Regions from separate parts of the Homo sapiens genome. Here regions 1 and 2 are each linked to region 3. The links come from fine-mapping of genetic effects on gene expression. A gene starts in region 3. Each other region holds a variant in brackets. All regions are shown on one strand. Distances are between the middles of the regions. Region 1 overlaps PLEKHA2 (pleckstrin homology domain containing A2). Region 2 overlaps PLEKHA2 (pleckstrin homology domain containing A2). Region 3 holds the start of PLEKHA2 (pleckstrin homology domain containing A2).

Region 1 (4,110 bases), 27 kb after region 3:
ACTGAAGTGTAGTGTGCAGTCAGAGCTCACTGCTGGATTTGACTGGGCCTGGTCAAAACATGCTTAGAATTAAAATTATATGTGGGCTTTTTGAGAGCTTAATGTAGAATTAGAAACTGCAATTTTGCTTTATGTGTTTTCTGTAGCCATCATATTTTTTAAACAAGTTGTATCTTTATAACAGGATGTACTTTGTCTAAATTAAAAAAAATTAAAAACTAAGCCGGGTGCGGTGGCTCACGCCTGTAATCCCAGTACTCTGGGAGGCCAAGGCAGGCGATCACCTGCGGTCAGGAGTTCAAGACCAGCCTGGCCAACATGGCGAAACCCTGTCTCTACTAAAAGTACAATAATTAGCAGGGCATGGTGGCAAGCTACTCAGGAGGCTGAGGCAGGAGAATCGCTTGAACCCGGGAGGCAGAGGTTGCAGTGAGCTGAGATCACGCCATTGCACTCTAGCCTGGGTAACAAGAGCGAGACTCCATCTCAAAAAAAACCAACCAACCAAACAAACAAACAAAAAACTAAGTAGCACATTGAAAGAATTGTGTTAAGAGTTAGCACTACTCAGTATTAAAGTCCAAGCAGCTAAACAGATAGAAGCTATGAAACTTAGCAGAGGTTAAATAACTATTGCAAAACCATAGTGATGACTATTCTAAGTTTTCTCAAAACTTCTCTTTGGTATGTTGTTGTTAGATTTTGCTTTACATTTTAACCTTCAACATTTGTTCAATGTATTTATTATATACATCTCTTTCTATATTTATAGATCTAGTTATATACCAAAGAATGGTATGACCAGACATGGTGGCTCATGTCTGTAATCCCAGGCCTGTGGGAGGATCACTTGAGGCCAGGAATTTGAGACCAGCCTGGGCAACATAGGAAGACCCCATCTCTACAAAAAATAAAATAAAATAAAGAAATTAGGCAATCGTGGTGGCATATGTCTGTAGTCCCAGGTACTTGGGACGCTGAGGTGGGAGAATCACTTGAGCTCAGGAGTTAGAGGCTGCAGTGAGCTGTGATCAGGACACTGTACTCCAGCCTGAGTTACAGAGCAAGACCCTGTCTCAAAAAAAGTCATTTTATTAATTTATTATCTAAATAGTGTCTCGAAGGCAAAGGAGGTTGGTTATTGCATGTTTGGGGGAGGGGTTCATATTAGATTTTGCTTCAGAGACCAGTTTTATTAGTTATATCAATTGAGCACAGGACAACATGATGAATATATTCATTAAGGAAACATCCATTTTTTGAGCCTCCTGTCCTCATCCACAGTATATGGTAATGATATCAATGATCTCCACCTGTGACATTGTTGCTGTGAAGAGTAAATAATGTATGTGAGAATGCTTTGATGAGCTCTAAAGTGCTACAGATGTTATCTGTTAAGAAAGTTTGTTCTGGCCAGGACATCGGGATGGATGGGGAGGTGGGGAGAGCTGGAGCTGGAGATGACGGCTGGGGATTTGTCACAGAGCTTCCTGATATGCCTGAGGTGGTGGGAATGGAGAGTGGGGGGGCAGGTTTAGAGGCTACATGAGGGAAGAATGTTTGAAAGTTTAGTACCTGGTTGACTGGGGAGAGGAGGTGGAATTACTGACAGAGGCTGGGGAGGGGAGAGGGAAACCGATTAGAAAGTGGAGGGGAAATGACATTGAGTTTGAGGCTGGATTGAAGAAAGGGCTGATGGAGTTGGCTTATTGAGTTTACAGCTTTAGAAACATTTAGGTGGCCAGCAGTCAGAGTTGGGACCCAAATGCCTCCGGGAGATTATCTGAAGCCCAGGCCTCTGACCTGGTCTTTTTTTTTTTTTTTTTTTTCTTTTTGAGATGGAGTCTCACTCACTCTGTCACCCAGGCTGGAGTGCAGTGGTGTGATCTTGGCTCACTGCAACCTCTGTCTCCTGGGTTCAAGCGATTCTCCTACCGCAGCCTCCCGGATACCTGGGATTAAAGGTGTGCGCCACCAC[A/T]CCCAGCTAATGTTTGTATTTTTAGTAGAGACAGGGTTTCACCATGTTGGCCAGGTTGGTCTTGAACTCCTGACCTCAAGTGATCCACCCGCCTTGGCCTCCCAAAGTGTTGAGATTACAGGCATGAATCACCGCGCCCGGCCCGACCTGGTCTTTAAGTCTCTGTCACCAGAGTTGGAAGACGGAAATAAAGGGAATGGGGGTGTGGCTGAGAGACTTAACACACAATGAAACTTATCCTGTCTAAAGCTGATACTGGTGTCTGTCAACAAGAAATCGACATCCAAGTAATAGAATAAAAACATTAAGCCCACGCAGCAGAGGATGATATAGAATCGACTTCTCCTGAAGGGAAAGATTAAATACACACTTTGAACTGGAGAATGGGGAGAGTAGCTATCAGCGTGTCGTGTGTCCCCGCGTTAGCATCAGCAAGTGGACCTACAGGGCAGAGGGGAGGAGAGGTGTTTGGCCCTAGAGCAGCAGGTAGAGCCACGGCCCAGGTCACCTGGTGCCTGGGATTCGCTTGGCTCCCCTGCTTTGGTTGCTCATGTCAGGGTGAGGGCTTTGGAATGTGGGGCAGCGGCAGCTATGCTCCTCCTTCCCAGTCCTGTCACACCGTTCTCCTACATTCAAATGTCTACTCTGAGCTATACCCCCTCTGCAGGCACATTCTTTTCTGTGAGTCTACATGGCCGTGGCTTTTGGTGGCTGAGCTATGGTTTTAGCTCACAGACAGCAATGTCAGCTCATGCCCTAGCTCTGGGATTACCAGGGGCGTCCCCTCCCTCCGTCTCCTGCTAGCTGCTTTTTACTGTCTGCTGGACACCCCAGGGGCCTGTAAGAGAAGGTCAGATGGCACCAGCATCTCTCCTTCCTTCCCCCTTTCTGCTCTGAATCTCTGGTCTATTGGAGTTTGGCACCCAAGAGCCAGTTGGACAAGTTCCTGCCCTGCCCAGCTTGGGCAATGACACTGGGCCTCTTTTGGTGTAACCCTGCTGGTCCTGCTTTTGTATTTACCTTTCATTGATAATCAGCTCTTAGATAATGTCTCATGGGAGATGGCAGGGCCTAAAGGAAAGTGCATGGGATTTGGGAATCAGGAAGGGTTGGGCTTGAATACTGGCTCCGCTGCTTGCTGCCTGTGTGACCCTGGGCAGGTTCCTTCACCTGCCCCATCCTTAGTTTCTTCATCTGTGAAATGGGATTGTTAGGATTAGGCGACCACATGTGAAGGTGCCTAGCAGCATGTCTGGCGCATCATAATTTCTAAATATATGTTAGTTTCCTTCTTTCTTTCTCAGGCTGTTACTTTGCCAAAGCACCAGATTGATGTTAGGAGTTTGAGCTCTGTCTTCATTTGACTCCCTAAGGAAGTCACTTCCCCCAGTTGAGCCTTAGAGGACTCATGTGTAGTGAATGAAGAGGTATGCACAGGACCTTTGAGTGCTGACATGCTGTGAGTTTATGGATCGATAGTTGGGTCTTCTGGTCATTTCTGTGTTCTTTGTGACTCTCACTGGAAGAGGCGGAAGGGAGTAGAAGTCACATGGGTAAAAATTTCTTCTTCAACAAGAAATACTGCTGTTGCTAGAAAAAGGATTAACGTGGGAGGTGTGCCACATCCCTGTATGGGCACCTCAGCTGCTTCCTTGGTGACGGAGAAGAATAAGCCATATATTTTCCCCCCTGGGGAGCTGGCTCCTTCAAGGACCTTAGTGGCAGAAGAGCTCTTGAGCAAAAAGGAAGGTACTGGCATTGTCTGCATAAAACCACCTATCTTTATTTATTTATTTATTTATTTATTTATTTTTGAGATGGAGTCTGGCTCTGTCACCCGGGCTGGAGTGCAGTGGCGCAATCTCGGCTCACTGCAACCTTCGCCTCCTGGGTTCAAGCAATTCTCGTGCCTCAGCCTCCCAAGTAGCTGGGATTACAGGCGCATGCCACTATGCCCGGCTAATTTTTTAATACTTTTAGTAGAGAAGGGGTTTCACCATGTTGGCCAGGCTGGTCTTGAATTCCTGACCTCAGGTGATCCCCCTGCCTCAGCCTCCCAAAGTGCTGGGATTACAGGCGTGAGCCACCACGCTCAGCCTAAAACCACCTATCTTTTAACAGGAACCTGCCCT
Region 2 (4,110 bases), 45 kb after region 3:
CACCTATAATCCCAGCACGTTGGGAGGCCGAGGCGGGCAGATCACCTGAGATCAGGAGTTTGAGACCAGCCTGGCCAACATAGTGAAACCCCATCTCTACTAAAAATACAAAAAAATTAGCTGGGCGTGGTGGTGAGTACCTGTAATTCCAGCTACTCGGGAGGCTAAGGCAGGAGAATCTCTTGAACCCAGGAGGCGGAGGTTGCAGTGAGCTGATTTCAGGCCATTGCACTCTACTCCACCTCAAAAAAAGAAAAAAAAAAGAGGTTTAATTGGCTCAGTGTTCTGCAGGCTCTATGGGGCCAGAGGAGAAGCAAGAAAGAGAGTGGGGAGGTGCTATGCATATTTAAATAACCAAATTTCACAAGAACTCACTATTATGACACAACAGCATGGGGGATGGTGTTAAACCATGAGAAACCGCCCCCACGACCCATCATGATCCAGTCACCTCCCACCAGGCCCCACCTCCAACATTGAGGATTACAATTGAACATGAGATTTGGGTAGGGACACAGATTTGGGTGGGGACAGAGATCCAAACCATATCAATGTCCATCATCTCGAACATTTTTTTCTTTTAATAATTGTCCATATGCATTTCAGTTTTCTTGATGCCACAAGGCAGGTGCAAAATGTCCACTATAAGTTTCTGTGAACCTTATTTTAGAGCTGAGAAATGTTGTGCTCAGAAAAGATGGAGGACTCAGAGGAGACGCAGATGGCAGTGCCAGGAAGGGGATAAGACAAAGGAAGGAGAATTCTGTTAAGGGTCTCAGTTGCCCAATAGTGACATGTTGGGGGATGGTGTAGGAGGCAGAGTCACCGTGCATGGGTGCCTCAAGTCAGGAAGTGGTCAGTGAATTCAGTGAATCCATCATCAAATAGTTACTTGGCTCCTACTATGTTCTCACAGCTGTGCTAAGTGCTATGAGCAAATGCTAACAAATAGTTTCTGTTGCCTATCTGGGGTGGTTCTGAATGTAAGTTTCACAAAGGCAGGGGTATTCCTCTGCCTTGTCACTGTGGTATCCTCAGCACTTAAAGATGTTTCCTAGCGCATAGTAGGTGCTCAGTAAATATTTGTCAAATGAATGAATGAACGGATGAATTCTGCATCTACCCCATGAGACTCACCTCCTACAGTTCAAGCTTATGCTAAGAGAATAAAGTATTCCCTTGAGCGATTCTGTCTCCCCACCTCAGATTTGTTCAGACTTCTTTGGCATGCTCATTCTTCTATTTCTTGCAAATTTCATAGCTAAGCTCAGAAATGACTCTCACGTTTTGTGGTTATCAGATCTGAAAATATATATATGTAATAATAGTGAATGTGGAAGTAAATTGTTGACCTAATGGAATGCTCAGAGGAAAGAACAGGTTGAGAGTGAGGCCAAGGTCACAGATTTGATCTCAGGAAAGCTTTGTTCTATTTCCCAACCACAGACAACTCTCCCAGTCCAGACCAGTTGTGCCAGAGGAGACCAAGCATGGGTCCAAAATTCTGTATATACCGTGATGACAGTAAATGTATTAGCACCGCCAGAATGCGGTTCACAGTTGTGTCTTGTTGACGGCAGACCAGCAGCCTCATCACCGCAGAACAGCACACTGAGGCTGCTGTTAACATGGTCAGGTGTTGTTCCTGTGGCCAATGGGATGTTTTTAAAGGTGGGAAAGAGAGTGAGCAGGTGTGGCCTGGGGCTTCCTAGATATCCAGGCAAATGACTTAGCATCATGGGAGATTTCTTGTTCTGCTTTGTGGAGTTCACTCATCTCACTCCCTCAAACACCTTAGCTTTGTGGAGACTTGTTGTATTGCTTGTATTCTGACCTAGGAATGTCTTCCCTTCTTTTCTGTGGCTTTTGTAGTTATCAATGCCCTGTCTCAGAGATATTTCCTTCAAGCCAATGATCAGAAAGATATGAAGGACTGGGTTGAAGCCCTGAACCAAGCCAGCAAGATCACCGTAAGTTTGGTTTCTTCTGTTTTCTGGTGGTAGTAAAAGTGCCTCTTCCCAGGCTATGGCCTTGTTGGGGTTGGGGAAAACTGAGATGGCAGCGGGGACTTTCCCAGGAGCCTGGTCTGTACCCAGTTCTCTCCCACCTCGTCTTTTTCCTTGGCTGACCAAACACAAGTTGAACTGAGAGTCTGAGTTTGAATCAAGTTCAAGGGGAAGTTCATGGAGCGTCCCCTTTGTGCTTCCTGGGAGGGCTCCCGATCAGTCATGTTTCGGGTGATTCTGGGATGCTGATTCAGAATGTGGTAGGATTGGAAAATGGATTGGTGACTGTGAAA[A/G]GTCAAGTAAGGGGAAAAGCATATGGGGAGGGAAGTCAGAACTTTTTCCCAGCTTGGGGGATACTCTTCTTACTTTCAGAGGCTGCCTGCAGGGTCAGTCCAAGCCATCCGCCTCCCTGTCCTAGAAAAGCCTTCTGTTTAAAAGCATCACAGAGCTCGTTCATGGACTGTCCTACGAGTGTGCTCTTTTTCCTTGAGTTGGCTAATGAAGAATTCCTTTCTTTTTCCTTAGAGATATAGAAAAAGAAAGGAAGAAGGGTAGGAAGGATGGAGAGGGGAAACTATGTTTTGGAAAAAACTAGACTTTTAATCAATAAGACAGGCAGACTCCTGGCTTATATAGATCATGGCTTCTTTGCTGAAAAGTTTGTTTCTGTATCATACAGTCAGAAATGCTTATGTTTGAGGGGCTTCCAGTAGTGACTATTACATGCTGCAGCAAATTATCCTCCCAGATTTCTCAGGGTTCCTGTGAACAACTGTATAGAAGAAATTTGTACACGTATATAGTATTCATATTGCTAGACCCAACCTGAGTGTAATTGAGTCTCCTATAAGCACTTTTGCTGATTAGCTTCTTATTCTGATAAACCTTGGTAAACCCGTGAAAAGAGAGAGTGATGAAAAGAGAGAGGATGGATGGCTGGGTGCAGTGGCTCACGCTTGTAATTCCAGCACTTTGGGAGGCCGAGGTGGGTGGATCACCTGTGGCCAACATAGTGAAACCCCGTCTCTACTAAAAATACAAAATTAGCTGGGCGTGGTGGCACACGCCTGTAGTCCCAGCTACTCAGGAGGCTGAGGCAGGAGAATCACTTGAACCTGGGAGGCAGAGGTTGCAGTGAGCCGAGATCGTGCCATTGCATTCCAGCCTGGGCGACAAGAGTGAAACTCCACCTCAAAAAAAATAAAAAATAAAAAAATTAGCCAGGCCTGGTGGCTTACACCTGTATTCCCAGCTACTTAGGAGGCTGAGGCAGGAGGATCACTTGAGCCCAGAAGTTTGAGGCTGCAGGGAGTTATGATCGCACCACTGTACTTCAGCCTAGGCAACAGAGTGAAAGCCCATCTCTTAAAGAAGTCTCAGGTAGTGTAAACAGCTTTGGAAAGGCTCTGCATGTTGATCTGAAGCACTGCATGACACCGGAGCATAAGCACTGACAAACAGTGTTCTTCGGGATTTTGAGAGGAAACACAGCAGCCAAGCTTCTGTGCCTCCTTTTCTGGCCACTGGGAACTCTAAAAAGTTACTTTCTGGCCAGGCGCGGTGGCTCACGCCTGTAATCCCAGCACTTTGGGAGGCTGAGGCGGGTGGATCACAAGGTCAGGAGTTCGAGACCAGCCTGGCTAACATGGTGAAACCCCGTCTCTACTAAAAATATAAAAACTAGCTGGGCATGTTGGCATGCACCGTAATCCCAGCTACTTGGGAGGCTGAGGCAGGAGAATCACTTGAACCCAGGAGCTGGAGATTGCAGTGAGCCGAGATCGCGCCACTGCACTCCAGCCTGGGCGACAGAGCAAGACTCCATCTCAAAAAAAAAAAAAAAAAAATTGTTATTTCCCTCCTTCTTTGCTGGGTTTCAGGAATTCATCTGGGTCATTTAGGGGAAATTTCTGCAGTTCCATGGTGATTTTAATCACTAAATATCAACTAAAAATCAACATCCCTAAAAATGTGGTTACATAATAACAGAACTCACAGAAAGTGAGAAAGAGTAGCTTAGGTAGGTCGTGACATGCAGCAACAAGGAGTCAGGCAGTCCTAGAGCCAAATCACTTAATTTTAATGAGCTTGAGTTGACCTCATC
Region 3 (4,110 bases):
ATTTCAAGGGAAATGTGTGTGTGTGTGTGTGTGTGTGTGTGTGTGTGTGTGTGTGTGTGTGTTTTGCCCATCGTCCCCCTTTTCTTCCTCATTGAAAGCAAAATGCTCTAAAGCAAACAGTCTTTTTTCACACCTGAGACACCGGCGGTGTTCATTTTTGCTTTGGCAATCAAAATGGAAGAGGAAACTTGTGTGGTTTCATCACTGGTGCTTTCGGGGTGTGTGGGGCGGGCTGTCCTTCTCCCTCGGTCCTGGCTCATCGGCCCGAGCCCCCCTCCCCAGGCCTTGTGGCCTCCGGTCGGTCGTGGAGACATAAGAGGCCGCCTTTCCTCTGTTAACACCGGGAATGTGCCCCAGCCTCTCCCTCCTTCCTGCAAATCCAGTCCTTGTCCTGGAGAACCTCAGCGTCTTCTTATGCCTGCCTCTTTCAAAGCCTCGTAGGATTTACACCTGATTAACAACGTTTGCATTAGGATCGCCAGACACCGGCGCACGGCCCCGCAGGCCCGCGCGAATCTTCTACATTTTCATGTTTCGGATGTTGTCCACCTGACTTGATGCATATTCAAATGTCTCTCTCCCGACGTGGGAGGCCGGAGTCAGAACCTGACAGACCTGCCGTTTACTAACTGGGTACCCAGGGCAAATTACTTCACAAGTCTGAGTCTCGGTTTCCTCACCGTGAACCGGACTGGTACCCATAGGTTGCGGCGTGGATCAAATGAGATAGCGCAGGGGCGGGACCCGCGCACAGCAGCTCTCTTAGTTCCTCTTGGCGAGGTTTACGTAGTAACACATGCTTGTCTGTTTCCCATTTTTTCCCAGAGCACCCTCATGCTCTGGGGGCAGGAAGGGAGTCTTCGCATCACACCGAAAAAGTCCCAACGGGCACGGTGTAGGCGCCTGTGGTCCCAGCTACTCGGGAGGCTGGGGCAGAAGGATCGCTGGACCCAGGAGGTCGAGGCTGCAGTGAGCTATGACTGCGCCACCGCACTCCAGCCTGGGCGACAGAGCCAGACCCTGTCTTGATTAAAAAATAAAATAAAATAAAGAAATTAAAGTCCTTATAACCCTGGTTAGAGCGTTCCCGCCCACTGGTCTCTTAGGGCACATTTAGGACAACCTGAAGAAGCCACTCTTCTTGGGACCCTAACCCTTACCCCAACTCCTCGGTCCCCAAAGGCTAAGGGCTCGGGATCCGAAGGAGGCCCAGCTGAGGTCGCTGGGTGGGGCTCTGGGAGGAGGAAATGGGGTTCTTGAGGGAGCTCGCGCTCCAGCTCGCCTCCTCCTGCGAGGACGCCCCCTGCCCGGACACCTGCTGCCCGAGCGAGCGTCGGGGCCGGGCCTCCCCGCGGGGCAGTCTCGGCGCGCAGGTCCCACCTGCCAGGCGCGGAACGCGGGCGGCCTCGGGCGCAGCCTCCGGGCGCCCCGCCCCCGCCTCCCCCGCGCGGCCCCGGCGCCCGGCCGCACCCCCTCCCAGCCCGCGGCGCCCCGGCACCCCTCTCCCTCCCCGGCGGGCTCCGCGGAGCATTGTACTCACATCCGGGGCTGGGTTTTGCTTTAATGCGAAACGTAATTAACCCGGAAAAAAGAGCCGAGGGACGGGAGAGAAGGAGGGGGCACTGGGGGAGACCAGAGCGAGGGGAGCGAGAGGCGCGGAGAGTTTGGCAGGCAGACCCAGAAATCCCTGGAGCGCGGCGGACCCGGCGGCCGGAGGGGCGACCCCGCCCGATGTAACGCGCCCCGCCCGAGCCCCGGCCCCTGCACGGGGGGGTAAGTTGGGCGCCCTCGCGGGCTCGGGAGTGGAGAGGCGCAGAGGGGCGCGCGGGGGCTGGCGGGGCTGGGGGTGCAGGGGGCGCCCCGGCGGAGGCCTGGCGGCCTAGGGGCGCGAGGGGCGCGCGCGCAGGGCTGAATACGCCGGTCCTAGTGGCTGACAGGCGAGGGGAGGTGGCCGCAGACCCTGGAGGCCTCCTCCAACCCTCTGGGAGAGCCCCGAGGGCAGCCCCTCCTCCAAGTGCCCCGGGTGGCCAAGGTCGCCGCCGCCAGGGGTCGGGCTGCGGGGGGTGGGGCCGCGGAGAGGGTGGGGGCGGGAGTTCTGCTGAGCTGCATTTTCTCACGTTTGCAGCAGCGAAACTTCTCTGCGGGTTCTGGCGCTGGGGCACCGACCCCGCAACGACTGCCCGGGCTGCGGGAGGGGAGGAGAGCAGAGAACGTCCCCAGGCAAGTCCCTTGGGTACGGATTGGGCCATGGAGACTCCTCTTTCACTCCCCCGACTACCTTATTAAATGACAGGCCTAGAAGGCTCCCCTAGGGACTCCTGTCCTTTCCTCTGGGTGCAGCCTGGACTTCGGGCTTCTGGAACTCCAGACAGTGAAAAGGACTGCCCTAAAATGCAGGTTCGGTGCCAGGTTGGGTGAGCCCTCGAGGGGAGCTGTCGTTCTCTCTCTCACCAACTTCTTCCTCACCTTACACGCTTCCCTTTTCTCCTCCAGTCCTAAAGACGATTTCACCAAAATTTTTTTAAAAAGAAAGAGAAAAGAAGGGTGTGGGGGGGGGTGGTGGGAAGCTAGGCCGTTTAGAAGGGAAAAGTGTCCCTGCACGCCCAGAGAGGGGCGCAGGGCCCGCTGCGGCCGGAGCACCCTCACATCTCCTCCCCGGGGCCAGCCCTGCCCCCAGGCCCTAGCCTTAGGGTTTGGCTTCCTTCCTTCTTGGTGAACGCAGGTTCAGGATGTATCTTCCCCTTCTCATTCCTTCTTCCTGCCCGCCCCCTTTCTTTCTTTAGGGCTCCAAGTGGGGTTTTCAGAGGACAGTAAACGGCAGAGAAGAGGGAGGGGAGAGCACCCCACCAGAAAGCCAGCTGTGGCTCTGGGGGCTCTGAAGGCTGAGCTGTAGATGCACTTGGGGCTGAAGTCCCAAGATTGCACTAATGGTGTTCTTAATCTATCTGACCAAGTCCCATTTTCCCTTCTTTTGTCATTTTTTTTCTTTGGTTGCGAAGCCTTCCGAAACAGCAAAGCAAAAGATCTTGAAAGAATAGAAGTTTTTGCTTTCTATTTCAGTTGCATTCAGTTGACATGTATTATACATGCAAGGCAGTGATGAACAAAACACAACCCCTGTCTTTATTTTTTCTTTTTCCTTTACCTCTGGAGGGCTGGACCCTGTCTTTGGCGAGCTTACAGGACTTGTAAGCCCCCCACTTGTTTTGAGAAGCCAGAGTAAGCTTTTAGAAAGCATCATCATCATCTCAGACATTAGCCCTCTTCACCATGTGCCGCCTGAAGGCAGATGACTTTTGCACTATCAGAGGTCTAGCTTGTAGTCTAGATTATGGCCAGCCCAACGTATGACATGTACCAGGTGCTAAGTAAATGTTTATTGCATTAATGAATGAATGCAAACACATGAATTGTTTGCACTTGTCCAAATGGCAGAGAAAAGAGCAGTGTGGTTGTTCCTCAAACCTGTAGGGATTTGGTTCTCCAAGCTGGTACATGGGAGTTATTAGTCCGGATGTTGCCTTTACACCTAAGTATCCTTTGACCCTGTTTGTACATTACAGCATGCTTTCTACAAATTGTCTATGGCACTCCTAGTGGGGTTTTAGCTAGCTGGTAATGGGAGCCTTGCTCATTTCACAGATTGGTAATTACCTTGGTATTGATTGAGAAACTGCCTGCCCTTTGGTGAAGAGTTTTTGCAACCCTTTCTTTTTCCTTGTCATTGGTGCTTTCTTCTCTCTTCTGTGTTAAGGAAATAGGGCCTGCAGATCCCATCATGTCATGGTAGTGAGCTGAACCATATTCAGCTCGGTATTTTTGAGTGGTTAAAATAAATCTTGAAGACATGCAGGTTTTGGTTGGTGCAGGTTTTTGTTCTGCAGAAGTGGGAAGGGGAAGGCTGATGAGCCCTATCAGCTGAGCCCCAGAGCAGCCCTCCCACTACCTTGCCAAGTGTTTGCCGAAGTGCTAGGATACTAGGAAGACCCAAGCAGCGTTGGTCTCCTGTCCAATTCATGGGACAGATGGACAGGTGGGTGATGCCCCTGCTGAAAGGCTGGATGACTCAGATGAGAGCTTGCTGCAGACCACAGTGCATCAGAATATCTC

The links. PIP is the estimated chance that this variant, and not a neighbour inherited with it, causes the effect.
Region 1: its variant is the best candidate, but not a certain one, in a credible set for the expression of PLEKHA2 in nasal epithelium (TOPMed, PIP 0.60).
Region 2: its variant is the best candidate, but not a certain one, in a credible set for the expression of PLEKHA2 in monocytes after R848 (Quach 2016, PIP 0.80).

What each region holds. Positions count from the first base shown.
Region 1 is chr8:38,926,428-38,930,537 of GRCh38, forward strand. All of the region lies in intron 2 of PLEKHA2 (pleckstrin homology domain containing A2), which reads left to right. Among named protein-coding and RNA genes, the nearest start is that of PLEKHA2, 27 kb to the left of the region's middle. The variant A/T (reference allele first, on the strand shown) is at 1,979.
Region 2 is chr8:38,944,252-38,948,361 of GRCh38, forward strand. PLEKHA2 (pleckstrin homology domain containing A2) reads left to right here. Exons shown (of 12, transcript NM_021623.2): 5 at 1,873-1,970. Among named protein-coding and RNA genes, the nearest start is that of HTRA4, 28 kb to the right of the region's middle. The variant A/G (reference allele first, on the strand shown) is at 2,300.
Region 3 is chr8:38,899,673-38,903,782 of GRCh38, forward strand. PLEKHA2 (pleckstrin homology domain containing A2) reads left to right here and starts at 1,674. Exons shown (of 12, transcript NM_021623.2): 1 at 1,674-1,773. LOC124901937 (a long non-coding RNA gene) reads right to left here and starts at 1,773. Exons shown (of 2, transcript XR_007060893.1): 1 at 1,541-1,773; 2 at 1-1,024. RefSeq lists enhancers at 86-275, 336-585 and silencers at 1,186-1,595, 1,676-2,345.